7 linked regions of the Homo sapiens genome follow. The protein of the gene in region 3 purifies or fractionates together with the protein of the main gene of each other region. This does not show direct contact. Each region holds a gene or a part of one and is shown on either strand. Other genes may lie near its edges.

Region 1 (4,090 bases), on a different chromosome or scaffold from region 3:
CTATACATACACTTAAAAATGGTTAAGACTGGGCGCGGTGGCTCACGCCTGTAATCCCAGCACTTTGGGAGGCCGAGGCAAGTGGATCATGAGGTCAGGAGACTGAGACCATCCTGGCTAACATGGTGAAACCCCATCTCTACTAAAAATACAAAAATTAGCTGGGCGTGGTGGTGCGCACCTGTAGTCCCAGCTACTTGAGAGGCTGAGGCAGAAGAATCACTTGAACCCGGGAGATGGAGGTTGCCATGAGCCGAGATCATGCCCCTGAACTCCAGCCTGACAACAAAGCAAGACTCTGTCTCAAAAAAAAAAAAAAAAGTTTCTTTTGGTAAAATCAGGCTGGGTGTGGTAGCTCATGTCTCTAATCCCAGCACTTTGGGAGGCAGATGCAGGCAGATTGTTTGAGCTCAGGAGTTGGAGACCAGCCTGGGCAACATAGTGAGACCCCCATCTCCACAAAAAATAAAAAAATCAAGCCAGACGTGGTGGCATGCACCTGTAGTCCCAGCTACTCGGGAGACTGAGGTGGGAGGATGTCTTGACCCTAGGACACGAAGGTTACAGTGAGCCAAAAGCATACCACTGCACTCCAGCCTGGGCAACAGAGTGACATCCCGTCCCTCCCCCCACAAAAAAAGGTTAAAATGGTAATTTTTGTGTTAAGTATATGTTACCACAATTTAACAACAACGACAACAACAAAAAACACTACAAGGAACCACTCCAAAGAAAGGCATTCACGGTGTAAATGGCAGACACAAATTTATTCTTCATAAAGGAACAAATTCATCTTACAGGATTTTCTTTTTTTTGAGATGGTGTCTTGCTCTGTCGCCTAGGCTGGAGAGCAGTGGCAAGATCTCGGTACACTGTAACCTCCACCTCCCGGGTTCAAGTGATTCTCATGCCTCAGCCACTCAAGCAGCTGGCATTACAGGCACCTGTCACCACTCCCAGCTAACTTCTGTATTTTCAGTAGAGATGTGTTTTTTTGTTTGTTTGTTTTCCTTGAGACATAGTCTTGTTCTATGGCCCAGGCTGGAGTGGAATGGCGTGATCTTGGCTCACTGCAACCTCCGCCTCCAGGGTTCAAGTGATTCTCCTGCCTCAGCCTCCCGAGTGTCTGGGATTACAGGTGCGCACCACCACGCCTAGCTAATTTGTTTTTGTTTTTTGAGACAGAGTGTCACACTGTCACCCAGGCTGGAGTGCAGTGGTGCGATCTCAGCTCACTGCAAGCTCCGCCTGCCGGTTTCACACCATTCTCCTGCCTCAGCCTCCTGAGTAGCTGGGACTACAGGCACCCGCCATCACGCCTGGCTAATTTTTTTTTTTTTTTTTTTGTATTTTTAGTAGAGACAGGGTTTCACCATGTTAGCCATGATGGTCTCGATCTCCTGACCTCGTGATCCACCCGCCTTGGACTCCCAAAGTGCTGGGATTACAGGTGTGAGCCACCGTGCCCGGCCAATTTTTTGTATTTTTAGTAGAGACGGGGTTTCACCATGTTGGCCAGGCTGGTCTCAAACTCCTGACCTCAAGTGAGTCATGGCCTCCCAAAGTGCTGGGAGTACAGGAGTGAGCCACCACACCCAGCCAAAAAAAATTTTTTTTAATGCTTACCGGGGGGGAAAACGAAGAAAGAAAACGAACAGGAGGAAGGAGTAACACTAATGAATCTTGCAGGGTCTATTTCTCTGCCCTTTCCTCATATGGACATAATACATGCCATCGTCCTCCTCTGTCAAATTATCTCACAGATGAGATCATGTAATTTAAGTGCATTAAAGTCTAATGCCAAAGCCAGTTACTAATTTTAGTTCACTTCCAATACCTTATTTATTTTCTTGAAACCAATTACGGTCTGAAAACTCAATCTAGATAAAATTCTACTCACGTCATGTATGTGTTATAGTCAACAGTAAGAGCTAAATTTCTAGATATAACAAATTAAAATGAACAACATATAAAGCATACATTCTCAGGTTTCATCAATCCAACTGTCAAGCTCTGGCCAGGCGCGGTGGATCACGTCTGTAATCCCAGCACTTTGGGAGGCTGAGATGGGCAGATCACCTGAGGTCAGGGGTTCCAGACCAGCCTGGCCAACATATAGTAAAACCCCTTCTCTACTAAAAAATACAAAAATTAGCTGGGCATGGTGGCGCACGCCTGTAGTCCCAGCTACTTGGGAAGCTAAGACAGGAGAATCACTTGAACCCGGGAGGCAGAGGTGAAGGTTGCAATGAGCTGGGATCCCGCCACTGCACTCCAGCCTGGGTGACAGAGGGAGACTCCATCTCAACAAAACAAAACATAAAAACAATGTAACAGTCACAGGGGAAAATCCCACAGAGGAATAAGTCCTTGCCCTTGCAATTCATATTCTCCAGAGTTCTTGGAGATTAACGTCATAGTCGATATTACTAGTAAAATTTTCGCTTCCTCAATTTCCCAAAAGTCTTTATAATAGTACTTTTATGACTAATATTTCTTGAGTGTCTACTACATGCCAGACAGCAACCTAAGCACTTAAACTCTATCCTTGCAACAGCTCTTAGAAGCGAAACATGTTCTATTATCAACTCCATTTTTAAAAATAGGGGCCAGGCGTGGTGGCTCAGGCCTGTAATCCCAGCCTTTGAGAGGCTGAGGTGGGCGGACCATCTGAGGTCAAGAGTTGGAGACCAGCCTGGCCAACATGGTGAAACCCTGTCTCTGCTAAAAATACAAAAATTAGCCAGGTGTGGTGGCGCATGCCTATAATTCCAGCTACTCGGGAGGCTGAGGCACAAGAATCACTCGAACCCGAGAGGCAGGGGTTGTAGTGAGCTGAGATCATGCCACTGCATTCCAGCCTGGGTAACAGAGCAAGACACTGTCTCAAAAAATAAAAATAAAAATAAAAAATAGGCCGGGCACTGTTGGCTCACACCTGTAATCCCAGCACTTTGGGAGGCCGAGGCGGGTGGATCACCTGAGGTCAGGAGTTCGAGACCAGCCTGACCAAAATGGAGAAACCCCGTCTCTACTAAAAATACAAAATTAGCCAGGCGTGGTGGTGGCACATACCTGTAATCCCAGCTACTCAGGAGGCTGAGGCAGGAAAATCGCTTGAACCCAGTAGGCGGAGATTGCGGTGAGCCAGGCGCGCCACTACACTCCAGCCTGGGCAACAAGAGCAAAACTCTGTCTCAAAAAAAAAAAACAAAAAATAGGGAAACATACAAAGATGAAGTGAAATGCCCAAGGTCGCACAGGCAGGAAACGGCAAGGGCCAGGACTGGAATCCAGGCAGTCAGACTTCAAACTTGTGTCGCTAGCCATAAGCTATAAACCCTCTCTCAATTTATAAATTTGTCTTCCCTCTCATGATATATTTTTTAAGTAACTAGTTCTTTAAAAATCCTACATAGAGTGTTGGCCAGGCGTGGTGGCTCATGCCTGTAATCCCAGCACTTTGGGAGGCTGAGGCAGGTGGATCATTTGAGGTCAGCAGTTTGAGACCAGCCTGGCCAACATGGTGAAACCTGTATCTACTAAAAATACAAAAATTAGCCGGGCATGGTGGCACACACCTGTAATCCCAGCTACTCAGGAGACTGAGGCAGGAGAATCGCTTGAACCTGGGAGGCGAGAGTTGCAGTGAGCCGAGATCGCGCCATTGCACTTTAGCCTGTGCGACAGAGGGAGACTCCTTCTCAAAAAAACAAAAACAGAAACAAGTTACAACCAAAGGAGAATGAGTCAATCCTCCAACAACTCTGACAGTTCCTGGCTATACTGAACTTTCTCTTACTTTCTCAGTAGGCCAAAGTGGTAAAAAGCAAATGAGTACTGCCAGAAACAGGCATGGAATACCAAAACAAGAATTTTACAGAGGAGAAAACAAACAGGAAGACAGCAGGGAGAGTTCCAGAACAAAAGGACAACAGTAAAGGACGACAGGGCAAGAATGGAGAATGAAGAATTATCAAGACAATACCTTCACCTCTTCCGATGACGTACCCACACAATTTTTACAGGATACACACATCCTTGGCTGGGTGCGGTGGCCCAGCACTTTCGGAGGCCAAGGCGGGCAGAT
Region 2 (4,090 bases), on a different chromosome or scaffold from region 3:
CAAAAAGTATTCAAAATTTGATATGCTGTTTAGTCACTACAGTGCCCTCAAAGGGCAGAAGTTGCAGCCTTTTTTATATTGCCTGCCAAAATTTGAAGTATTAGAAGAAAGTGTGCCATGAGAGAAAAACTTAAGGAGTTTTGAAAAGTAATGCAAATAACAAAACTGCAACACTATTTTTAAAAAGATAAATATCTGAGTTAAAATTACTGAATCTTTATTTTACACCTAAAAAAATATGAGAACAAGGTACATGCATTATGTGTCACATTACTGGGCAAACTGTTCAAGTATTTTTTTTTAAACCTCCCTGTATAGAAAAAAATCATTAAGGATGTAAAAGCCATGCTTGCCTATTTGCTGTATACATGTAATGAAATTGTAGATAAAGTGTAGTGCATTGAAACAAATGAACAAAAAGTAGATACTTTTACTATACAAGGGTGCTGGTGCAGAAAAAAATATATATATTTTTGGAAATGTAGCATTTTATACTTTCAAGTGTTATAAAAAAAAAGAAAAAGAACAAAGAAACCCTTTATTTCATTAAATGATTTTTTCTGGTGGTTGTCAAGAAACAAAAGACCAAAAGAGCCTTTTTGTCTTTCTTTTTTATTTTTTAAGTATTGGAATAAGTCTAAAGAAAAGAAAGTGCCTTATTTTCCTTCATGGTCATTCAGTCAAGTGTCTCATAAAGATCAGCTCCTCCCTCAGAATACAAGTTAATGCATGTTACTCAGTCGCCCAGTATGTGAAAGAAGATATGAGGGAGACAAATGAGTTGATAGTTTGAATTATAGGATTTTTGCCACGTTACCTTGATGCAAATTTGCCAAATCTGATACTGTGAAAAGATTTGATAACTTTTCTAATGCCTGACTAGTAAGTTTTAAAACATCATTCTTTAAAAGAATAGTTTAATACTTTTGGTTATTCCAATCTTCAATGTTAACCCAAAGGATTCTGAGATAAAAATTATGTGTCATCTAAACTTCAGTTTACAGACAAAATTAGAGCTTTGTTTTATTTGGAGAAGGGGGATGCATTCATTTGATTTTGTTTTTTGTTTTTAATTAATTGAATATAATAGGATACCTAGCAAATGTTTTCACAAAAGTGAATCTTTGTGATTTTCATTCTAGAAAACAATGTTTTAAATCACCCAAATTTAATCACATGTCTTTATATCATACCAGATAACTGGTGTAGTGTATCCTTTTACTGTTTCAATAACCTCTGCCTCCCCCACCCCTTAACTTTAAAAGAATGTGAAAAACTAGCATCATAGTGCATATAAATACTCAACCACATTTCAGCTTAAGCTTCTAATTTCTCAAGAAGTTGAAACAGTTAGTTATGTAGTTGAAGCAATTTGTGTGCAAAGCCTACATCTAAACACTTGAGTGAATAATCATTAACTGCTCAGTACCAGACGTGGCAAATCTCAAGTGACAGTGGACCCCCCCCCCCGCCCAGCTTATCAACTCGTCCCCTCTTCCACACCTTCCCAGCATCACAGTCAGAGGTCAGCAGGAAGCTGAGTCATTACCTTCTTGGTGACCTCCCCCACCATCTTGTCTCACTTGGAAACCGTTGTCAGTTTATTTACTATGCAATAGACATTCATTGTTTTGTATCCAGCTAGCTTTGGTTTAATATGCCACTGCTTTGTCTTTCTGTTACACATACAGTTTTGATTTATTTACAATATATGCTGTGCCATTTTGATTTTTATATTGTTTGGTTGGTTGAATAAATTTGCGACACTCAAACACTTGAGGTGATAGTTGTTAAAAACAATACCAGTATTTGATCCAGTTTCATCTCAACTATGTTATACCTGGACATTTTAGATGTTTATCAAAGGTCTTTTATGGGGAAGAAAGTAAATGTATGAAATAATAAATGTGTGACATTTATAGGGAATGTTGGCTCTGAACAAACTTTTGAAAACTTGGTTGACAAAATTTTGGATCAACTGAAAAAAGCATGACTTTTGAAATCTCTGAATGCCTTGGTTCTCAGTATTATCATTCTTTATTGAATTTATTTCTTATTAAAATATGTAGTTTTTAAGACTTTTTTTCTGACAGTATTATGTAATTTTTTAGCGTGGGTAGATGGGAGTGTCGCTTGTATGTTATCGTACAGCTGACATGTATTTTTGTCTATTCTTTATTATCTTAGTTTCATGCTATGTATGTACCATAACCAACCTATTGCCTATGAGAAACATGTAAGATAATGTATTTACAGCCATTGTTACAAGTTTATAATGTATTTTTCTATCTTGTTTTATATGTATGTTATATAACATTCAAAAAGAATTTTTTTCTTGATTGAGAAAAGGATACAAAATGCAAAATCCACAATTTTGATAACTGAAAATTGCCAATTGTTTTGCAGTACTTTATTATATTGGGTGTCTTGTCTTTTTTGGGCTTTTAGTTAGCTAATGAATGAATACATTAGACACTTTTGGGTTTTAGTTGGGATTTTACATAGCTTGCATTTTAATTCTTTGGTTCTTTGCTGTTTCTATTAACCCACAGCATTATTTTAATAAATGTTATAATACCAACCTACTAACTCTGGACTTTGTCTGTTTATTAACCTTTATATGTTTAATTAAAATAAACAAATAAAGACAAAAGAATGTAAAGTCTTGAGTTACTGGACTAACCCTGAAGAACGTGACCACAGATAACATAGTGTGACTTGTTTTTATGTTGTTTGTCAGCTGACAGTTTTGCACACTACTGTTAAAATGGCTTTGGTTATTCTGGTCTTTTAGCTTGGGGGCCGGGGCGGGTGTGGGTGTAGGTGCAGTAGAGATGGGAACAAAGTAGCCTTTGTTTGAGGCATTCTTCTCTTGCCACTTGCCTTTCAGCATCTGCATTACTAATTCCACACCTTATTTTTCCTTCTCCAAAATAATCACTGTCTGCTCACAGCATCGAGTAAAAAGATACATTGTCATGGTATATACCTGGAGAAACCAGTTTGATTCTTTGTTGAACCATTTCTTTTAATTTCTGTAAATAAGTAATTTTATGGTCACATTGTAAAGCAGAGAAACTGTTGATATTTTACCTTTATTTAGATTTTTGTTTTAACTTGACCTTTTTCCTTTGGAAAGCGTTGAACTTGTTTAGCTAACTACTCCTATTAGGGGAGCTTAACTTGGGTAAAGTCAAAGGCCCACTGGCTGTTTCTCATGGTGGCCTGAAGCCCCGCTGCTTTCCAGTGAGGAAAAGAACCCTCAGCACGTTACTGAGCTTTCCTCAGGTATTTTTTTCTCTGTCACCTACTTTACAAATACAGTCAGACTAAAACATTAAACAAGAAGTTTAAGGGGGAATAACATTGGGATTTGAAAAGTTGTATGTGATTAATTTCTTGCATGCAAATCAATTTAAGATTTCTTAAATATCTTCATGCTTTTCTTGGCTGGAACTTGGGTAAATTAACCTGTAATTATGAATTATTTAGTTTAACTCAAGGTGCATTTTTATTTCACAGATTGATACTTGCTTTTTTCTGTGAAACAGTTCTCCTAGATACCAAAATCCTCAGGATGAATTTTTGCATTTGTAAATAACAATTTATCTTTGTAAATTACATTTTATTTATTTAGAGTTCTAAAATTGAGGGCTGAAATGAATGACATGTAATAGAAGACAAAACTGTACCAATACGCTGTTAACCAATCAGACTGTCCAGGTATTCTCATTTCATAAATATGTATACACACATATAAATACACAGAGTAGTGTTAGCTGATGTGAGTGATAACAGCGAATCACCATTGAGATGGTCATTTGGATCATGTAAACAAACCGTGTCATGTCTCTGATGGGAGCGGTGGGTAGTGTACTGTTAGGTGGACAGGTCTTTTAACATGCTACTATTTGTAAAAGTTTCCGTTGCCATAACAGTTCATGTAGTAGTCTGTGAAAATTCGAAGCTGTCTGTCAAGCTGCTAATATACAAGTTGTCATGGTACCATGTAACTTAAATTGATGAATTTCTATGCAATTTACTATTCTCTGAAGCCTATGAATGCAGCCTCATCTCATTTTCAGTTAAG
Region 3 (4,090 bases):
GCATACTTGGCATACCCCACATTTTTTCCTGACACAAGGTAAACTTCGATCAGGTTACCAAAACGACTGAAACAAAGTGAAAAAAATAATCAACCAAAATTGATAAATACAACTGCTCAGGTCTAAAATTTGGAGTCCATTCTTGACTCCATTTTCACCCTTCTCCCCAGATCCAACATCCAACTCATGTCAATCTTAAACATCTCAGTCAATTCTATTCATTCTCATTCAGATCTCTCTTCTCATTCAGACCATCATCTTTTCCTTAATCTAACTCCTTTTTCACTAGTTTCCTTACCCCTGAGCTTGTCCCTCTTCAATCCATTTTTCACTCTGTCTTCTGAGTGATCTTTCTAAAACATAAATATGATCATTTACTCCCTAAAAGTCCCCTCAGCAGCTCCCCATTGCCTCCATGGTGACAACAAATTCCTTAATATAGCTCTAGAGCCGTTCTGACATTGTCCTTGGACTCTTTAGTTTCATCTTCCTTAACAATCTCTCAAATTCCCTATTTAACAGCCCTTCTTTTACATTCTCTATGGCAGAAATAACCATGCATACCCCCAGCTTTCACCTGTGGAGAAATTATTTTTATACTTCAGGTCTCCACATACACCTTCCTTCTTTCAAGGCTTCTCAGAGTTTCTAAGGTAACTGCTCCTCCTTTGTATCTTACACATTCCTTATCACAGCAACAATCACCCTGGGTTGTAATTTTCTGTTTACTTGTCTGTTTCCTACATGAGATCAGCTCTAAGAGGACAAGAATCATAATGTCTTGTCCATTTAATATTTTGTTTACATGTCTCTTGTACTTAGCACAGTTCCTGCCTTGAACAAAGAGGAGGTTCAAGAAGAAAACTAAATATATCAGTTAAATAAAGGTCAAAATACTTGAACCATATCCTGATATTTTTTTCCTTTTGAGCCTCAATATACTATCACATTATGTCCCTGATATTTTGTGCAGCTCTTTAACAAGCTTCCTGTCTATCAAATTCACTAACATTCTTGTAAGGCAAATGGGAAAAAGGCCTAAAAGAAAAAGCAAAGAAAGGAGTTATGTTAAAAACACAAAAATAAATAAGAACCTTCCCTTTTTTATTATAAAAAACATTTATGTATTTTTCCCTACAATCAAGTAATTGTTTACACAATGCGACTGCATAACCCTTAAGGATCCTACAATGCACCAACAAAACAGAAGATGCTTAGCAAAAAAAACACAAAAAACAAAAAGGGTCTCACTCTGTCACCCAGGCTGGAGTACAGTAGCACAATCTTGGCTCACTGCAACCTCGACCTCCTGGGCAAAAGCAATCCTGCCACCTTAGCCTCCCAAGTATCTGCGACCACAGGCATGTACCACCATGCCTGGCTAATTCTTGTATTTTTTGTAGAGATGGGGTTTTGCCATATTGCCCAGTCTGGTCTTGAACTCCTGAGCTCAAGCGATCCCCTGACCTCGGCCTCCCAAAGTGTTGGGATTACAGGCATGAGCCACTGCACCAGGCCCACTTTATGTTTCAAAAACAAAATAGCAGGAAATTCTCTATGGAGCCTTAGGATGTGTGACTGATAAACAAGAGAAGAAAATAATCAGAAATTGAAAAAGATGATACAAATAAGGAGGTTTTAAAAGCAGAGAACTAATACTCTCTACTTGATAGGTACTGGGTGAAGGAAGTGTCTAGATTATAAGAATAATTAAATTACTAGTGTAAATAAAATATAACAAAAAATGTAACTTTCTTACCAGAATATATCTTCTAATACGTCTAAAGGTAAAGGATGAGGATTAAACACAATAAAAAGTCTTTCTTTCACAGGAGTTTCAGCAGGAGCTTTTTTTTTGCATGATGGAAGTACAACATCTGTCTGGATTTGAGGCAACTGTGATCCAGAGCTTCCTCCAAATTGCTGTTAACAGGTAGAAAACAAGAAAAAGAAAAAAATGCCCTTTAGGGATTTTTGGCCAAGAGCTAAAGACAGATATGTATCATGGCATCTATGTGGTCTTCCACAATAGCTCTGAAAATTTTCATACACAGATAATCAACAAAGCATGATTTCTCTTCACATTTATTTTATATGCTATTGATATATTATAAAGGTTAAATTCTTACCTACTTACCATAAATTGTTGCTGACTTGGGTTATTCCACACCATTGATGCAAGCTGTGCAGCTACCATCTGTGTTGCCATTTTTCTAAGGAGACTGGAAAAAATAACTGATAATTTACAGAAAACTAAAAATATTCAGTCTTTTAACAGTAGCTTGTTTTGTGTGACTTTCTCACCTGAGAGGTCAATTGTTTCTATTTTTATTCTTCAAGTCCTATCAATCATGTACACTCAAAGCTCGGCTTTAGACACTCCTGGAATGGTACTTACTCTGTTGCATTACTTCCATCATCAATGAAGGAAACACCTATTCGGTTCCCAGGAGGGTACTGAAATCCATGTAATTTGTATTTTGCATAAATAGCTGATGCTACATTAAAATACTGAACCACTCCATGACCTAAAATAGAGAACATACAGAAATGAAAAAGGAAAGCAGACTGAGTGCCTAAGGCCTATGTTACAATCTATCACAAAAATGAAACCATGTAGAACTCTAATATCACACAACTAGTAAATACAGAATCGAATGTATCAGAAAACACAGTTCTGTTATCATGTGTGCAACAGGTGTATTCCTAGAAAAGGAAGAAATAATTTAGGGAAAAATATGAACATGATATTTTAGGGAAAATGGAATATTAACATACGTCCTGTCTAATAAGTTTAGTTTTAGGATACTAGCTTTTCTTATATGATACCAATATACTTAAAAGTCTAAATTTTTATTCTTTGAAATCTACTTTGAAATTTTAAGATTTTCCCAACCATACTGGGTAGGAAATGAAATGAGAAGTGATAGTTGAAAAGAATATATACTCATCCCGGCTATCTGCAGCAGTAGGGAGAGGAAAAGTGATTTGAATGAAAAACAAAAAGATAGGGAACAGAGGATCTCAGATCACAAGTGATATATTTTACTTTCCTTTGGAGAGATTTCTGCCAAAGGGACGAATTTCAATTTAGGAGGGTGATGTTGAAGGGAGGGACAATGTTATAATGCATTCCTTAGAGAGCCCAGGAGTTTGTGACACAACTAAAAGGTTTTCACTTTTATAATACAAACCACTGGGGAAACACTTATAATTTATGTTCATCTGGAAACCCAAGCATCCAACATTTTAATGAAATTAAAATAAAACACAGAAATCAAATGACCATATAAAGTTAATTCAAATGAGATTCGAACTATATGATGACACCTCTATTAATAAAAAGATGTTCCAATGACACATATATTTCAGACACATCCAACCAGAGAAACAAAACAGGAGGTACAGGAACAAATACATTTTGACATACCAGATAAAAGGGAGGGAACAAAACAAAATGAACACAACTTCATATGCATATAACAAATGTGCCAGAGAACACAAAAATGTGTGCCTAGAAGTCTTAGAACAGAGAATGACGCATATGATCGGGTTAAGACTGGGGATGGCTCAAAGACAGTTCTACAAAAAGACTAGTGCTGGGTTGGGTACTAGTGAGTATGTGGGGGTGTCTGTATGAAGGGTGGAGTTACCTTAGTCCTGTTGGTCCACATGACCAAACTCACGTCACTACTTCTATGTCAATAGCCATGCCACTCTAAAAGGACTAAATCAGGTATCCTTACAAAACTGGAAGAGATGCCAACCAAGTATGATTTCTCTCTACCACCCCTCACTAACAAAGAAAAAAAAACCCCTTAGATTTACTGAGTGCCCTATTACATGCCAGAACTTGCATTAAGTTATTTTACATATATTATCTCTAATTCTTACCTAACCCTGGCAAAGAAGGTATCAATGATCCCATTTTACATACGAGGAAAGAGAGGCTCAGAGGGGATAAGCAAGTTGCCAAGGTCTCAAAGCTACATGTCACTGCTGGGATTTGTACCCGATTCTATGCAAAATGGAATGCCAGACTTTCCCATTATGCCACAATGCCTCCATTAACAAAGAGCCTTAATAAAAT
Region 4 (4,090 bases), on a different chromosome or scaffold from region 3:
AGTAGAGACTGGGTTTCACCATGTTGGCCAGGCTGGTCTCAAACCCCTGACGTCAGGTGATCAGCCTGCCTCAGCCTCCCAAAGTGCTGGGATTACAGGCATGAGCCACTGTGCCCAGCCAGAAGGGTATCATTTTTAGTCATTGTGGAGTCTCTGTCCTGGAACCATCCCCAAGTGACTCTACCTGGAGTTAAATTGTATTTCATTATGCAGGAAATCTTGATATAATAGCATTTTACTTATCTGTAAATTACTTAAGAGACACATTGAGCTACAAGGTTTTTTGTTTTTGAGACAGTCTTGCCCTGTCGCCCAGGCTGGAGTGCAGTGGTGCAATCTTGGCTCACTGCAACCTCCACCTCCTTAGTTCAAGCAATTCCCCTGCCTCAGCCTCATGCCACCAAGCCCGGCTAATTTTTTTGTATTTTTTTTTTTTTTTTTAGATGGGAGTCTCACTCTGTTGCCCAGGTTGGAGTGCAGTGGTGGGATCTTGGCTCACTGCAACCTCTGCCTCCTGGGTTCAAGCGATTCTCCTGCCTCAGCCTCCTGAGTAGCTGGGATTACAGGTGCGCACCACCACGCCTGGCTTATTTTTGTATTTTTAGTAGAGATGGGGTTTCACCATTTTGGTCAGGCTAACCTCAAACTCCTGACCTTGTGATCTGCCTGCCTCTGCCTCCGAAAGTGCTGGGATTACAGGTGTGAGCCACCGTGCCTGGCCAATTTTTTTCTTTTTTTTTTCTGAGATGGAGTCTCACTCTGTCACCCAGGCTGGAGTACAGTGGTGCAATCTTGGCTCACTGCAACCTCCGCCTCCCGGGTTCAAGCGATTCTTCTGTCTCAGCCTCCTGAGTAGCTGGGACTACAGGCGTGCACCACCACGCCTGGCTAATTTTTTGTATTTTTAGTGAAGATGGGGTTTTACCATGTTGGCCGTGCTGGTCTCGAACTCCTGACTTTGTGATCCACCTGCTTCGGCCTCCCAAAGTGCTGGGATTACAGGAGTGAGCCACTGCGCTCAGGCGTGCCTGGCCAATTTTTTTTGTATTTTTAGTAGAGACAGGATTTCACCATCTTGGCCAGAATGGGCTCGAACTCCTGACCTCAGGCAATCTGCCTGCCTCAGCCTCCCAAAGTGATGGGATTACAGGCGTGAGCCACCAAGCCTGGCCCACTACAAAGATTTTTAAACATTACTGCATTATGGCCGGTCGTGGTGGCTGATGCCTGTAATCCCAGCACTTTGGGAGGCTGAGGCGGGCGGATCACAAGGTCAGGAGTTCGAGTCCAGCCTGGCCAACATGGTGAAACACTGTCTCTACCAAAAATACAAAAATTAGCCAGGCGTGGTGGCGGGTGCCTGTAATCCCAGCTACTAGGGAGACTGAGACAGGAGAATCATTTGAATCCGGGAGGTGGAGGTTGTAGTGAGCAGAGATCATGCCATTGCACTCCAGCCTGGGCAACAAGAGCAACACTCTGTCTCAAAACAAAACACCATTACTGACTGCATTACAAGGAAGACCGCTTTCTTTTGGATCTCTATGAAATGTTCTAGAGCTCTGTAAATTCTGTCTCTAAAAGATCCTGTCTTGATTCTCATAGTATCGTTTTTTTAGATTAGTACAGGAAAAAGAATGGTACATGAGCCTAAATTGACATATTGGGCTAGAGGTTTAGGGACTTTTAAAAAGCAAAACTGGCCGGGCACGGTGGCTCATGCCTGTAATCCCAGCACTTTGGGAGGCCGAGGCAGGCAGATCATGAGGCCAAGAGATCGAGACCATCCTGGCCAACATGATGAAAGCCCATCTCTACTAAAAATCCAAAAAAATTTAGCCGTGCATGGTGGCGTGTGCCTGTAGTCCCAGCTACTTGGAAGGCTGAGACAGGAGAATAGCTTGAACCCGGGAGGTGGAGGTTGCAGTAAGCTGATATTACGCCATTGCCCTCCAACCTGGTGACAGAGCGAGACTCTGTCTCAAAAAAAAAAAAAAAAAAAAAAAAGCAAAATCAAGAGTCTATTTGCAAGCAAATTAACTTACAAATTTTTTTTTTAGAGGCAGGGTCTCACTGTGTTGCCTAGGCTGGTCTTGAACTCCTGGCCTCAAGCGATCCTTCACCTGGGCGTCCCAAAGTGCTGGGACTACAGGCATGAGCCACCCCACCTAGCCATTAAATTTTGCTTTTTTTTTTTAAATTTTTTTGAGACAGAGTTTCGCTCTTGTTGCCCAGCCTGCAGTGCAGTGGCGCAATCTCATCTCACTGGAACGTCCACCTCCTGGGTTCAAGTGATTCTCCTGCCTCAGCCTCCCACGTAGTTGGGATTACAGGCATGCACCACCACGTCCGGCTAATTTTGTATTTTTAGTAGAGACGGGGTTTCTGCATGTTGGTCAGGCTGGTCTCAAACTCCCGACCTCAGGTGATCTGCTTGCCTCGGCCTCCCAAAATGCTGGGATTACAGGCATGAGCCACTGCACCCGCCTTACTTTTTGTTTTTTTTTTTTAAGAGAGACAGGGTCTTGCTTTGTCACCCAGACTGGAGTGCAGTGGCGTGATCACAGCTCACTGTAAACCTCAAAATCCTGGGCGAAGTGATCCTCCTGCCTCAGCCTCCTGAGTAGCTAAGACTGCAAGCATGTACCACCACACCTGGCTAATTCTGAAAATTTTTTTTAGAGATGCGGTCTCACTATGTTGCCCAGGCTGGTCTTGAACTCCTGGTCTCAAGTGCTCCTCTCATCTCAGCCTCCCAAAGCGCTGGGATTACAGGTGTGAACCACTGTGCCTAGCCAGTTTACCATTTCGTAGCAATAGAGTATTGTTTCTTTTTTTTTTTTCTTAAATTTATTTTTTATTTTTATTTTTTTGAGATGGAGTCTCGCTCTGTTGCCCAGGCTGGAGTGCAGAGGTGTGATCTTGGCTCACTGCAACCTCCGCTTCTCGGGTTCAAGCGATTCTCCTGCCTCAGTCCCCTGAGTAGCTGGGATTACAGGCATGCGCCACCACAGCTGGCTAATTTTTGTATTTTTACTGGGGGCGAGGTTTCCTCATGTTGGCCAGGCTGGTCTCGAACTTCTGACCTCAGGGTGATCCGCCCACCTCAGCCTCCCAAAGTGCTGGGATTACAGGCATGAGCCACTGCAACCAGCCGAGTTTTGTTTTTTGTTTTTGTTTTTTTTGAGACAGAGTCTCACTCTTGTTGCCCAGGCTGGAGTGCAATGGTGCGATCTCGGCTCACTGCAACCTCTGCTTCCCGGATTCAAGCGATTCTCCTGCCCCAGCCTCCCGAGTAGCTGAGATTACAGGCGCCTGCCACCGTGCCTGGCTAATTTTTTGTATTTTTTTAGTAGAGACGGGGTCATGTTGGTCAGGGAGTATTGTTTTTTAAGTAATATTCACTTAAAATGTTTTAGATTTTATAATATTCTGGTTTTCTTTTAAATTAGAATGTCAAATTACACACTTTTTATTTTCATTTGGATAGAAGGTGTCTATGGAATGTAACTTCTTTTTTTTTTTTTTTTTTTTTTTTTGAGACGGAGTCTCACTCTGTCGCCCAGGCTGGAGTGCAGTGGCACAATCTTGGCTCACTGCAAGCTCTGCCTCCTGGGTTCACGCCATTCTCCTGCCTCAGCCTCCTGAGTAGCTGGGACTACAGGCCCGCACAACCATGCCTGGCTCATTTTTTTGTATTTTTTTAGTAGAGACGGGGTTTCACCGTGTTAGCAAGGATGGTCTCGATCTCCTGACCTCGTGATCCGCCCACCTCGGCCTCCCAAAGTGCTGGGATTACAGGCGTGAGCCACCGCGCCTGGCCGGAATGTAACTTCTTAAAGTAAATGTTATCATTGTTGATATTGTATTGAAGTTTTCTCTGTGATATACCATATCCTATGGGCTGAAATTTCCAGCATCCCTTGGGGAGTGGAGGCCATCAGGGCAGACCTGCTATGGACCTGAAAGATTCCGCCCCAGGTCAGCCCTCCACTCCCCACCTCCCCACAATTTGAGAATGAGAGGGAACAGGAGTCAGGAGCCGGAGTGTTGGCCCCAGTAGACTCCAATCAATGTTGGACATGATTCT
Region 5 (4,090 bases), about 160 Mb from region 3:
AAATATTTTTAAAAATGACAAAGTCTGTATTAAACAGATTTTTTACTTATCATTACAGTATGACTATTTACATAGCACTTACACTGTATTAGGTATCGTTAAGTAATCTTGAGATGAGTATATGGGAGGATATGTTTAGGTTATATGCAAATACTATACGCTATTTTATATAAGGGACTTGAGCATCCGTGAATTTTGGCACAGGAGTGGGTGGGTCCTGCAACCAATCCCCCAGTTACTGACGGGCAACTGTACAGTTAAATAAGATGAAGGCAAAAAGAACAATGTAAAACATAGGTAACAGATGAGAAATGAATATGATTCCTTAAGAATTTCTTTTGAATGACTGATTTATTTTTTGAGACAGGGTCTTGCTCTGTTGCCCAGACTGGAGTGCACTGGCATGAACACAGCCCACTGTAGCCTCAACCTCCGGGACTCAGGCGATCCTCCCATCTCAGCTGCCTGAGTAGCTGGGACCACAGGCATGTATCGTCATACCCAGCTAATTTTTAAATTTTTTGTAGAGATGGGGGTCTATGTTGTCCAGACTGGTCTTGAACTCCTGGGCTCAAGTGGTCTCCCACCACAGCCTCCCAAGTAGCTGGGACTAAAGGGTTGCACCATGATGCTTGTCTAATTGTTTTTCTTTTTTTTTTTTTGTAGAGGGAGGGTCTTGCCACATTGCTCAGGCTGGTCTCAAACTCCTGGGCTCAAGTGATCTTGTCACCTCAGCCTCCCAATCTGCTGGAATTATGGGCAAAAGCCCCCATGCCTGGCCATGATAACCTTAAGCATAAAAATGGAAACCATACCAATATATCTGCCAAAGGATATCCATCGATTTTAATTTTTCCTCCAGTTATAACATACGGGAGGAAATGAAAGCCCAAGGAGGTTAAATGTGTAGCCTAAACACAAAGACAAACAGTTATCTGAGTGTTACATGCTGTATTACCTTGTGCATGATTATCTTTCTCTGAGCAGGTTCAGCCATATCAATCATCTTTTGAACCACGTAATTGGCATACTGGTCCTTCATCATGGTGTATAAGGCACTGTGAGGACCATCATTCTGGCAGCAAACCTCGTCAATCAGTAAAGCTCTCTCAGCACGGGAGGCATGAGTAACACACTTTTCTACTACATTGCTAAAAATTAAAGCAGATAAACAAAGATTTGTTATTTTTTTCTTCACAGCAAAATTTCCTTGACTTATAGAAAGAATCTTCTCCAATGAACAATAAAACAGAAGTCAGGATGGGATTCTCTTGTCTTATGATTACTTTTATTTTATTTTGTTCTTTTTTTTTTTGAGACAGGGTCTTGTTCTGTCACCCGGGCTGGAGTGCAGTGATGCTATCACCGCTCACTGCAGCCTTGACCTCCCTTGCTGAAGTGATTCTCCCACCTCAGCCTCCCCCATAGCTGAGACTACAGGCATGCGCCACCACGCCTGGATAATTTTTTGTAGAGAAAGGATCTCCCTCTATGTTGTCCAGGCTGATCTCGAATTCCTGGGCTCGACTGATCCTCCTGCCTTGATCTCCCAAAGTGCTGGCTGGGATTACACGTGTGAGACACTGTACCCAGCCAATTACTTTTATAACAGAAATTGGTATCTTGGAACAACCTACATCATTTTGACATCCACAAGTTTAATTACAGGTCTCTTAAAATTGTACTTCAAAAAAAAGGAAACCAGATCATTAAAGCTGTGAGGTTTTCAAGAAACATGTACTAAATAAATCTGCATTTCCAGTGTCGGGAGTAATTATTTTCCAAATACAGATTTCATAAATGAACATATGTGGGCAAAACAAATTTGTTATGTAGATTTTTTTAAAAAACAAAAGCAATGTTCTATAGGTGCATTTTAATGATACCAAAAAAAAAAGACTACAGTTTAATGCTACATGCTACACGTATTTCTGTGATAACTAATAAAAGTCAATGAGTTGAAAGAATTGACCCTTAAAATTACAAAGTATTACAATACCTGGCAAATTTGTGTTGACTCAGGGCTAAAACCTTTCCCCTGATTTCGGAAACAATTTTGCTCTTGTCTTCAGGTCGACCGTGTTCCAGTACATGCTGAATAACATAATTGCCATACTGATCCTAAGACAGATATTTAAAAATTACTTTCCCTAAGTCATTCCTTAAGAATGATATTCTTTAAAGACATGTTAATCATTTCATCTAAAAATCCAGTAGGATAGTTAGGAGAATACAACAGCCTTTTGTCTCACTCTTGTCTATAGTGTGTTTAGTAACAAATTGTATTTCTTTTAAAAATTAAAACAATTTCCAAAAATATATAAACATTTCAAATTATTAGGGAATTTATACCTGTACCAACTGCTCTGTATGTTGGTGGAGTTCTTCTAAGATAGGTAAGGTCTGTTCTGCAGTGCAATGCTCTAGGATGCGCTGAATTACTCTGCAGCCATAAGGATGAGTTGAAAGCACAAATACCTGAGGACAATTAGAAGAATTAAAATTTGTATTCTCTGACATTTTTGAACAGTTCTATGAAGCAGACTGGTTTGTTTTTTTTTTTTTTGACAACACCTAAAAGCAGTTTGAAATAGAAGGGTGATGAACTCACATTTAATATGACTACCACCATGTTAGAAAAGACTGGAGAGTGGGGACAGGGAGCACTCCATTTAGGAGCTGAAGATATTTTGATCAAAAGGAACCTAACCAGAACTTTACCTGAACCTGAGGTTATGTAACAATGGGAATGAATGGGTGAAAAGAGAAAGGGTAGTTCAGCATTAAGAAATATTAATTACTATGTATTAGTTACAAATTGCTATGTGTTTTCTGTCTTATTATACAGTCTTATGTCTTTCTCCAAACCTCCTTCCCTTCTCTGAGTAAACCTGAAAACATCGTTGGGTATAAATAAAAAACAATTCTAACAGTGATTACCTTTACTTCTTAAAGTAATGTGATTAAACTATTTGTTTTGCAGCTTCAGAAAAATGAAGCTATCTACTGACTATGAAAGAGGAAGAAATTAATGTACATTTACTGTTTTGTATCCTATTTTTGTATACAATTGCTGGGTATTATCTAGTGACTCATGAAAAACGTGTTGATATTCAAAATTCTAAAATAATGCCCTGCTAACAAATTATAAGCCAAAACTCAAACATACTTGTCCCTTGAAAGCATCAATGATGAACTGTAGTGACTGTGGCTGAACACATTCGATACATTTTTGTACAACATGGTTTCCATTCTGATCTTTCACACATTTGAGCACATGACCATCCAGCTCCTTTACCATTTCACTCTGCAAAAGACAGGATGTCATTTAAATTATTACCTCAAACGAGAAAATACTAGTATATTTTATCTCAGTATTAAAAATTAAAAATATTAAAAATCTCAGTATATTTATCTCAGTATTAAAAATACTGAGATGGGAACACAAATATATTCACAAATATTATTTCCTGTTTGTCAAGGGTTTAAATTTTTTTCTCTTGTAGTATAATTAGCAGAAACCATTGAAAAGTGAAAATTACTAAAACACACTGCAGGATTATAATGTAAATGATGTATGTTGAAACAACGTAGTGATGCTGAACTTGCTGTATTTAAACTGTCTTCACTGTGTAAATCATCCGCTAATATTTATCGGGCGGTAACTAACATGACTAATTCAGAATTACACACTTCCGCCTTACTTAGTACCACCTCCACCACCAAAGGAATTATTTTTAATGGCTGAGTGAGTTTATCAAGTACATAGAAAAGGCTAAGAAGTTGATGACTACTTATGGGCTATGATTTTTACATATTATCTCAATAATTCCCTAAGGGAAGAATTAATGTCAGGTATCTTTGTTCTTTTATAAAATGCTCTTATAATAAAGTGCTTATAGCCAGATGCGATGGCTCACACCTGTAATCCCAGCACTTTGGGAGCCTGAGGCTGGTGGATCACCTGAGCTCAGGAGTTTTGAGACCAGCCCGGGCGACATGGCTCCGATTACTACCAAAAATACAAAAAACTAGCCAGACGTGGTGGCGCATGTCTGTAATCCCAGCTACTTCGGAGGCTGAGGCAGGA
Region 6 (4,090 bases), on a different chromosome or scaffold from region 3:
GAGACAGGTTCTTGCTCTGTCACCCAGGCTGGAGTGAAAAGGCACAATCTTAGTTCACTGCAGCATTGAACTCCTAGGCTCAAGGGATCCTCCCACCTCAGCATCCCAAGTATCTGGGACTACAGGTGTGTGCCCCCTTGGTCTGTAGTATCTGTATTTGTTTTTTGTAGAGACGAGGTCTCAATATATTACTCAGGCTGGTCTCAAACTCCTGGCCTCAAGTGATCTTCTTGTCTTGGTTTTCCAAAGGACTGGGAAAGTGTGAGCCACTGCACCTGGCCTGAAAATTATACTTTTAATATATACTACAACAAGTAAATGCTACTAGCATTAGCTATTAAATCACTCAAACATCAATCTTATTAAGCCTACTAAATTCTTTTTCTAGTAAACCTAGTGATATACACTTGGGGTCTTGGAAGGATACTGCCTAAATTTCAGTCATAGCTCTACTACTACTAATTGAAACTCACTGTTGCTTCAGTTTCCTCATTTGTAAAGCAGGGAAAATAGTACATATATGGTTGTCACAGGTATTAAATAATGCACATGTGCATTCCAAGCACTCTGAACAGAGACTGATGCTAATCAATTTGTGTTAACCATTACTATGAAATAATTGTGTAAATTTACATTTATTTACACATATATGCTCTATTCTCAAGAGAAAACAGATTAGAATAAAGAAAGCTAGAGCAACCAAATCTATTATTTGGGAGTTGTCAGAAAAAGTAGGACCATATTAGTCTATTAGATGAGGAACTGGCTTACTCAAACATCCTAAAACATGGCAAGATAAGCTTAAAAAGCCTTTATGGAGATGGTACTAAGAATAATAACTTTTCTAATCTGTTTTCTCAGAAAAACAAAGTATTTTTGGGGCAACTTAGTATAAAACATTTTACCATGGATGTTTCTGAGAGTTGGGAAAGAGTAGTTTGTTTTATGAACCAAAAAATATTCTTATCAATCTTAAATTGCCTTATTCTGGCTGAAAAAGTCCTATGGCCTACTTCTTCCACCACATCTTTCTCCCCTTCACTATACTCCAGTGATAATGGTTCTTTCCCTCTGTCCAACTCCCCATGCTTACTTACACCTGTTCTCCCTCTCCCATTCCTTCCACTTTTGCACTTTTTCTCACTTGTCAGAGAAAGCTTCCCTGATTGCTCTATTTAACCTAACAACCTCTCCTATTAATCTCATCATATCATTCCTATTTCTATAATAGCAATCTTTACTATCACACAGAATTCTGTTTGTGCATTTGTTTTTTATTTATTGGCATATAGTAAGGGATCAATAAATATTTGATGAATGAATGACAAAACTATGTAGCTCTTCAAAGAATCAGGTAATGACATAGAAAGATAGCTAAAGCATACCATAGTGAGTGAAAAAGCTTGTCACAGAATACAGTATGATCCTATTTTCATAAAAAGTTAAAAGAAAAAAACTACATTTTGATGGATGAACATCTTATGCTAATATATTAAATATAAACATCAATAAAATACATAAGATACTTACCACTGGTTTGACAATGTTGGAAAGAAGTGCTTCAAATGCTTTAGTTTCTTCATCTTTTTCTTAAAAAAATAAAACATTTGAATATTTAAAAAAAAGAACTTAGATACAATCCCTTCTTCTCCCTAAATATGTATTCTGAAACTAGGTTGGTATTTGAGACTTTTATTTTCTAGTTTTTATTCCTTTGTTCATACTCAGCAGTTTGTGGCCCTTCAGCATTTATCTACTTTAGTTTTTATTTCTATCTTAACTGTGACTACTAATTATAACACCACTATATACAGATATATCTATATATATTTAGACATAGCTATATCTATCTGAACCAAATTTTTCTTATATCAAGTATATTTTTATTCATGGTTGTAAGAATATTCTCTCTGGAAAGTTCTCATTTGTCAATCTCATACCTCTTAATAAAGTTAACTATTTTTTCATGACATGCCTTAGTTATGGTTTCCCAAATTAGAAATATAATTGGCTTGACTGTAACTTATAGCCACCACTGATAGGCAAAAAACTTTAACTTAATTTCTTCTGAAACATCAGTGCTGAAAACGATGATCAGGTCTCAAATAAATGGGAGAACATTTATGTAAATGTTGTTAATATATAAGTCATGAACAGTTAAGACATTATTTGAAATTTGTTAGTGAGGCATGGAAATTTTAAGGAAAAGGAAGGTAGGAAGAGTTCACATGGCTTACATTTTGATATTTCCCTCAAAGTTGGAAGCATTTTAGTTCCTAGTCATATATTAATTACCTACACTATTTGATAGTAAATATCAATTTAGATAAGCATATTCAAGGACTGATAGAGTTGTGGTTATTGGTGCTTGTGAAATGACATGTTGGTATGGTTCATAGTCATTTCTGATGAAACCTTTAGAACCTGACATGGTCTACCATGCATATCTATGTATTTCTACATACGCATATCTACGTCAAACAGATAATAGTCAGTATTAAGGAAACCTAAAAGAACATACATATAGAAACTACATTAATCAAAGTAAGCAGTAGTTACAAGCTTAACATTACAATCAAAAGTACTGGGTACTAACTCCACAACTGTAGGCATATGAAAGACAGGCTGTTAACCCAGCTATATTTTACCTTATAGAGATTGATTCAAGTATATACAAATAATAGTGCTCAAAGTCCATATAGTAGGCTCATGCCTGTAATCTTAGCACACTGGAAGGTCAAGGTGGGTGGACTGCTTGAGCCTAGGAGTTGGAGACCAGCCTGGCCAAGATGGTGAAACCCTGTCTCTACTAAAAATACAAAAAGTAGTTGGGCGTGGTGGCATGCGCCTTTAGTCCCAGCTACTCAGGAGGCTGAGGCACGAGAATCGCTTCAACACAGGAGGCGGAGGTTGCAGTGAGCTGACATTGCGCCACTGCATTCCAGCCTGGGTGACAGAGCGAGACTTGGTCTCAAAAACAAACAAACAAACAAAAACCAATAAAACAAAGTTCATAGAGTAGAAGTCAGAGGTTAGGGGAAGGATCCAAGAGTAACAAGGAGAGTTTAGGAGAAAAGAACTTTTGAAGAAAGAAATGAAAAATACTCTATCCTAATTACAGAGTATATAGAGAGATTAGTAAATGATATAACTATTTGCTATCAAGGTTTTACTCAAAAAGAAGGTGGGAGAAATAAAAAGTTTTGATAGGTTGGGGACAGTGGCTCAGGCCTATAATTGCAGCACTTTGAGAGGCCAAGATGGGAGGACTGCTTGAGCCCAGGAGATCGAGACCAGCATGGGCAAAACAGCGAGACCCTGTCTCTACTAAAAATTAAAAAATTAGCTGGGTGTGGTGGTGTATGCCTGTAGTTTCCAGCTGCAGTTATCTATGATCGTGCCACTCCAGCCTGGGTGACAAAGCAAGACCCTGTCTCAAAAAAAAAAAGTTTTGATTAAAAACCAGCAGCATAGCCTTATCAAACGCCCAGAATCAGAAGAAAGGAATCTGGATTAATGTTCTCTGAGTTTTCCTATCAAATAGAAATTTCAGTCAGTAAAATTTACGATATAGATGAAATTACTAATTGAGGCTTTCCAAACTGTCGAAAGCAGCAGCCTGTAACAGTCTATTTGGACCATGACAAAATGACTGAAAGGTTAGAATATACTTTTAGTAGGTTAAATCACGAGAATAGCATCAATGAGAACAGTTCAGTACTTCAAACAGTTACCTTCAATTTCTGTATCAACTTGTGTACCACCTTTCCCCTTCCCAGACTTGATTTTTGCTGATCCTGTGTTTATACCACCAGCAATTTGTCCTTTTATAAGTCCATTATGTTCATTAATGGGAGAAGGGCATTTCTGGGGTGATGATGGTGGACTGCTCATTTTATCTTTCTGTGTTCCTTGGCGATCCTTCAATTTTTTCTGCAAACGTTCATATGTTTTACTAGATCGTTCATCTCTAAAGTTGGACCTTCCATGTGTAGAGTGAGCATCTAGGAGGCAATAAAAACAAAATGTTAAGAAGATCACTTTCTCCAAATAAGTTTATGCCATGAAAAAAGAACAGAAAATAAATCTA
Region 7 (4,090 bases), about 130 Mb from region 3:
TGAACCCTTTAAGGGCTCAAGCTCTATCTTCTAGGAAGCTGCTCCGAAAATTCTGGCATCTTGCCTTTCTTTACTTCTTGATTTTCTACCTTCCTCCCAAAATGGATTACCTAATTTAGTAGTAACACACACAGATTTATGCGCTTGACACTATTTCACATTACAGGCATACCTTGGCTTTAATGCACTTTACAGATGTTGCGTTATTTACAAATTGAAGGTTTATGGTAACCCTGCCTTGGGCAAGTCTATCAATGCCATTTTTCCAACAATATGTGCTTACTTTGTGTCTCTGTGTCACATTTTGGTAATTCCTGGAATATTTCAACCTTTTTCATTATTGTTATATCTGTTACGGTGATCTGTGACCAGTGATCTTTGATGTTACTATTGTAATTGGGGGATGCTATGAACCATACACATGGAAGATGGCAAACTTGAGAAACGTGTTCTGACTGCGATGCTGACTAGTAATTCTCCTGTCTTCCTCTACTCAGGCCTCCCTATTCTGAGACACAACAATATTGAAATTAGGCCAATTAAAAACCCTATTATAGCCTCTAAGTGTTCAAGTGAAAGAGTCATACATCTCTCATTTAAATCAGAAGCGAGAAATGAAATGATTAAGCTTAGCTTAGTGAGGAAGGCATGTCAAAAGCCGAGATACGCTGAAAGCTAGGCTTCTTGCGTGGAACAGCCAGTTGTGAATGCAAAGGAAAAGTCCTTGAAGGAAATTAAAAAGGTGCTACTTCACTGAACACACAAATGATAAGAAACTGACACAGCCTTACTAGTGACATGGAGAAAGTTTTATTGGTCCGGATAGAAGATCAAACCAGCCACAACATTCCCTTAAAAGCCAAAGCCTAATCCAGTGCAAGGCCCTAATACTAGCAGAGGCTGGTTCATGAGGTTTAAGGAAAGAAGCCATCTCCATGACACGAAAGTCCAAGGTGAAGCAGCAAATGCTGATGCAGAAGCTACGGCAGGTTATCCAGAAAATCTAGCTAAGACCACTGATGAAGGCGGCTACACTAAACAACAGATACTCCATGTAGATAAAACAGTCTTATATTAGAAGATGTCATCAAAGATTTCATAGCTAGAGAGGAAAAGCTAATGCCTAGCTTCAAAGGACAGGCTGACTCTATTTTCAATGGCTAATGCAGCTGGTGACTTTATGTTGATGCCAATGCTCACTTACCATTCCCAAATCCTAGGGCCCTTAAGAATTACGCTAAATTTATTCTGCCTGTGTTCTATAAATGGAACAACAAAGCCTAGAGGACAGCATGGATGTTTATACATGGTTCACTGAGTATTTAAAGCCTGCTGTAGAGACCTACTGCTCAGGAAAAAAAAGATTCCTTTCAAAATATTACTGCTCAGTGATAATGCACCTGGTCACCCAAGAGCTCTGAAGGAGATATACAGGGAGATTAATGTTGTTCTCAGGTGCCCTAATAAAACATCCATTCTGCAGCCCATAGATCAAGGAGTAATCTTGACTTTCAAGTCTTAACACATTTTGGGCTCACTTCGGCAACACATATACTGAAATTGGAATGATACAGAGAAGATTAGCATGGCCCCTGCACAAAGATGACACGCAAATGTGTAAAGCGTTCCATGTTTTAAACATAAAATTAAAAAAAAAAAACATGTTTCATAAGGCTATAGCTGACACAGACAGTGATTCTTCTGATGGATCTGGGCAAAGTAAACTGAAAACCTTCTGGGAAGGGTTCACCATTTCTAGATGCCATTAAGAACATCTGTAATTGATAGGAGGTCAAATTATCAACATTAACAGGAGTTTGGGAGAAGCTGATTTCAACCCTCATGGATGAACCCCTTGAGGGTCTCAAGATTTCTGTGGAGGAAATCACTGCAGATGTGGAAATAGCAAGACAACTAGAAGGAGAAGTGGAGCGTGAAGACGTGACTGAATTGCTACAATCTCATGATCAGACTTAACATGAGGAGAAGCTGTTTCCTATGGATGACCAAAGAAAGTGGTTTCTTGAGAAGGAATCTACTCTTGGTAAAGATGCTGTGAACACTGTTGAGATGACAACAAAGGATTCAGAATATGACATAAATTTAGTTAATAAAGCAGTGGTATGGTTTGAGAAGATTGATTCCAATTTTGAAAAGACATTCAATTGCAGATAAAATGCTAACAAACAACATCGCATACTACAGAGAACTCTTTCGTGAAAGGAAAAGTCAGCTGATGTGGCAAACTTTATTGTTGTCTTAAGACATCTCAACCTTTAGCAATCATCACCCTGATCATTCAGCAGCCATCAACATTGAGCCAAGACCTTCTACCAGCAAGATTATGACTCACTGAAGGCACAGATGATCGTTAACTATTTTTAGCAATATCTTAAAATTAAGGTATGTACTTTTTAAAAACATAATGCTATTGCACACTTAATACACTACACTATGGTGTAAACATAACTTTTATATGCACTGGGAAACCAAAAAATTCATGTAACTTTGTTCATTATATTTGCTTTATTGTGGTGGTCTGGAACCATATCTTCCAGGTATGCCTGTGTTTAGTTACTGGAAATTTGATAAATTTTATGACTATTAGCTCTATTTTGAAATAATACAGAATGTTCTCCCTGTAAGGACGGAAAAAGAGAACTGACTTACTAATTCTGATTCTTGAGTCTGTTGTCCTCCCATAGATAAAATCAATGAAGCAATTCTTTATTTACCCCATGCCTCCAGTGAGCAAATCAGTGGGCCACAGATGGAGAGGTGATCATGATTGAGAAATGCTAACATTTATTTTGATGACTGAGGAAACTTTAGACAATTTCCTTTCATATGTGATTGTCTGGCAATCAGGGAACAAACTGGTTAAAAGACCAGAATTTGAACTGGGACGTAAAAACCTTGGGCTACTTTTTAATCAAGGGTCTGTCATTTCAAAGGAGTAGCAGGCAAGCAGAGAGGGTACTGAAGGAGCAAGAAGGCCAGTTAAGTGAGTCTCAAATGTGTACTTGTTTCAGGTGGCAGGCCCTTGGGGAGACTGAACTGGTTTCTGATATATAAGTCCAAGAGGATTTCCAGGTCTTCCCAGGAGCCTGGGATTCTACTCAATATACCCGGACTGCTCGGAAGATGTTCAGTGATACTTTTTAATGTTAAAGTTATATGCATAATTTCATATTTTTCTTAATAGTTTAAAAACATATTCCAGAACTGAGTTATTTATATCATAATTATCTGATATTTAGGATTACTGCCTTTGAGCTGAAGACTAAGACTTAGTTCACTATACTACAAGTCATTTACATGATATAGTCACTTAAATAATAAAGCCATTTAAATAAATAATATAGTCAAATTAAACTTATATTACCATAGCTTTTCATGAGGGAATTGTATGCTTCTTCCTTTTCATTTAATTCAGGAATCAATTCTAACACAGATTTCACAGTTGATGCCTAGGAAATTACATAAAGGTAATATTATGAAAACCGCAAATTAACAGTGAATTAGAACACTGACAAATCAACACTATATTAAAAATTTTCACAATAATTATAACAGAACTACCTATTAAATTTAATGCACTATTGTCCCTTGTATATTAGCATTTGATATTGACTCAATAATCTACAGCTAAAAGAAACCAGCATTTTTCCACAGGTTAATGCAATTCCACTTACATTTCTATGAATATTTTTCTAGAATATGATAAACACATTGCTTCTTTTGTCAAGTGGTGACCATACCAAGAAGTTATGAGATCCCAAGGGTAGAGAGATAACAACCCTATCTTTAGGTGCCACAACTGGTTGATGAAATTGTAAAGAATTCAGTTAAAACATTCTGAAGTGTTACACACTTGACATACAAAAAAGAGCATTTCCAGAATCTCACTGAAATTTTTACTTATTTCTTCCAGGAATATGCAGACTCGGCTATGGCTTTATTTCCTGTAGCGAGTGAATACAGAACTGCTATGCCGTAATGAATATCTGCTGAGTATTTCCCGCCCTACTCCAACGTTACTGGATAAACCCATGATGGATATATAAACATCTATGCCCTCTTCCCATCT

The links.
Region 1: the proteins of RBM45 (region 3) and GTF2I purify together in Homo sapiens (affinity purification with mass spectrometry, with the first as the bait; one large-scale study listed by BioGRID). This does not show direct contact.
Region 2: the proteins of RBM45 (region 3) and QKI purify together in Homo sapiens (affinity purification with mass spectrometry; one large-scale study listed by BioGRID and IntAct). This does not show direct contact.
Region 4: the proteins of RBM45 (region 3) and DHX30 purify together in Homo sapiens (affinity purification with mass spectrometry; one large-scale study listed by BioGRID and IntAct). This does not show direct contact.
Region 5: the proteins of RBM45 (region 3) and PUM2 purify together in Homo sapiens (affinity purification with mass spectrometry; one large-scale study listed by BioGRID and IntAct). This does not show direct contact.
Region 6: the proteins of RBM45 (region 3) and FNDC3A purify together in Homo sapiens (affinity purification with mass spectrometry; one large-scale study listed by BioGRID and IntAct). This does not show direct contact.
Region 7: the proteins of RBM45 (region 3) and LRPPRC purify together in Homo sapiens (affinity purification with mass spectrometry; one large-scale study listed by BioGRID and IntAct). This does not show direct contact.

What each region holds. Positions count from the first base shown.
Region 1 is NC_000007.14:74,664,068-74,668,157, reverse strand, and holds part of GTF2I (general transcription factor II-I), read right to left. Parts: intron 1-4,090. UniProt on the Homo sapiens protein: Interacts with the basal transcription machinery by coordinating the formation of a multiprotein complex at the C-FOS promoter, and linking specific signal responsive activator complexes.
Region 2 is NC_000006.12:163,571,212-163,575,301, forward strand, and holds part of QKI (KH domain-containing RNA-binding protein QKI), read left to right. Parts: 3' UTR 1-4,090. UniProt on the Homo sapiens protein: RNA reader protein, which recognizes and binds specific RNAs, thereby regulating RNA metabolic processes, such as pre-mRNA splicing, circular RNA (circRNA) formation, mRNA export, mRNA stability and/or translation.
Region 3 is NC_000002.12:178,121,960-178,126,049, reverse strand, and holds part of RBM45 (RNA-binding protein 45), read right to left. Parts: intron 2,529-4,090; coding exon 2,399-2,528; intron 2,223-2,398; coding exon 2,138-2,222; intron 1,924-2,137; coding exon 1,760-1,923; intron 67-1,759; coding exon 1-66. UniProt on the Homo sapiens protein: RNA-binding protein with binding specificity for poly(C). May play an important role in neural development.
Region 4 is NC_000003.12:47,805,721-47,809,810, forward strand, and holds part of DHX30 (ATP-dependent RNA helicase DHX30), read left to right. Parts: intron 1-4,090.
Region 5 is NC_000002.12:20,252,864-20,256,953, forward strand, and holds part of PUM2 (pumilio homolog 2), read right to left. Parts: intron 3,308-4,090; coding exon 3,170-3,307; intron 2,479-3,169; coding exon 2,353-2,478; intron 2,122-2,352; coding exon 2,000-2,121; intron 1,152-1,999; coding exon 959-1,151; intron 1-958. UniProt on the Homo sapiens protein: Sequence-specific RNA-binding protein that acts as a post-transcriptional repressor by binding the 3'-UTR of mRNA targets.
Region 6 is NC_000013.11:49,136,246-49,140,335, reverse strand, and holds part of FNDC3A (fibronectin type-III domain-containing protein 3A), read right to left. Parts: intron 4,005-4,090; coding exon 3,735-4,004; intron 1,590-3,734; coding exon 1,531-1,589; intron 1-1,530. UniProt on the Homo sapiens protein: Mediates spermatid-Sertoli adhesion during spermatogenesis.
Region 7 is NC_000002.12:43,891,160-43,895,249, forward strand, and holds part of LRPPRC (leucine-rich PPR motif-containing protein, mitochondrial precursor), read right to left. Parts: intron 3,471-4,090; coding exon 3,386-3,470; intron 1-3,385. UniProt on the Homo sapiens protein: May play a role in RNA metabolism in both nuclei and mitochondria. In the nucleus binds to HNRPA1-associated poly(A) mRNAs and is part of nmRNP complexes at late stages of mRNA maturation which are possibly associated with nuclear mRNA export.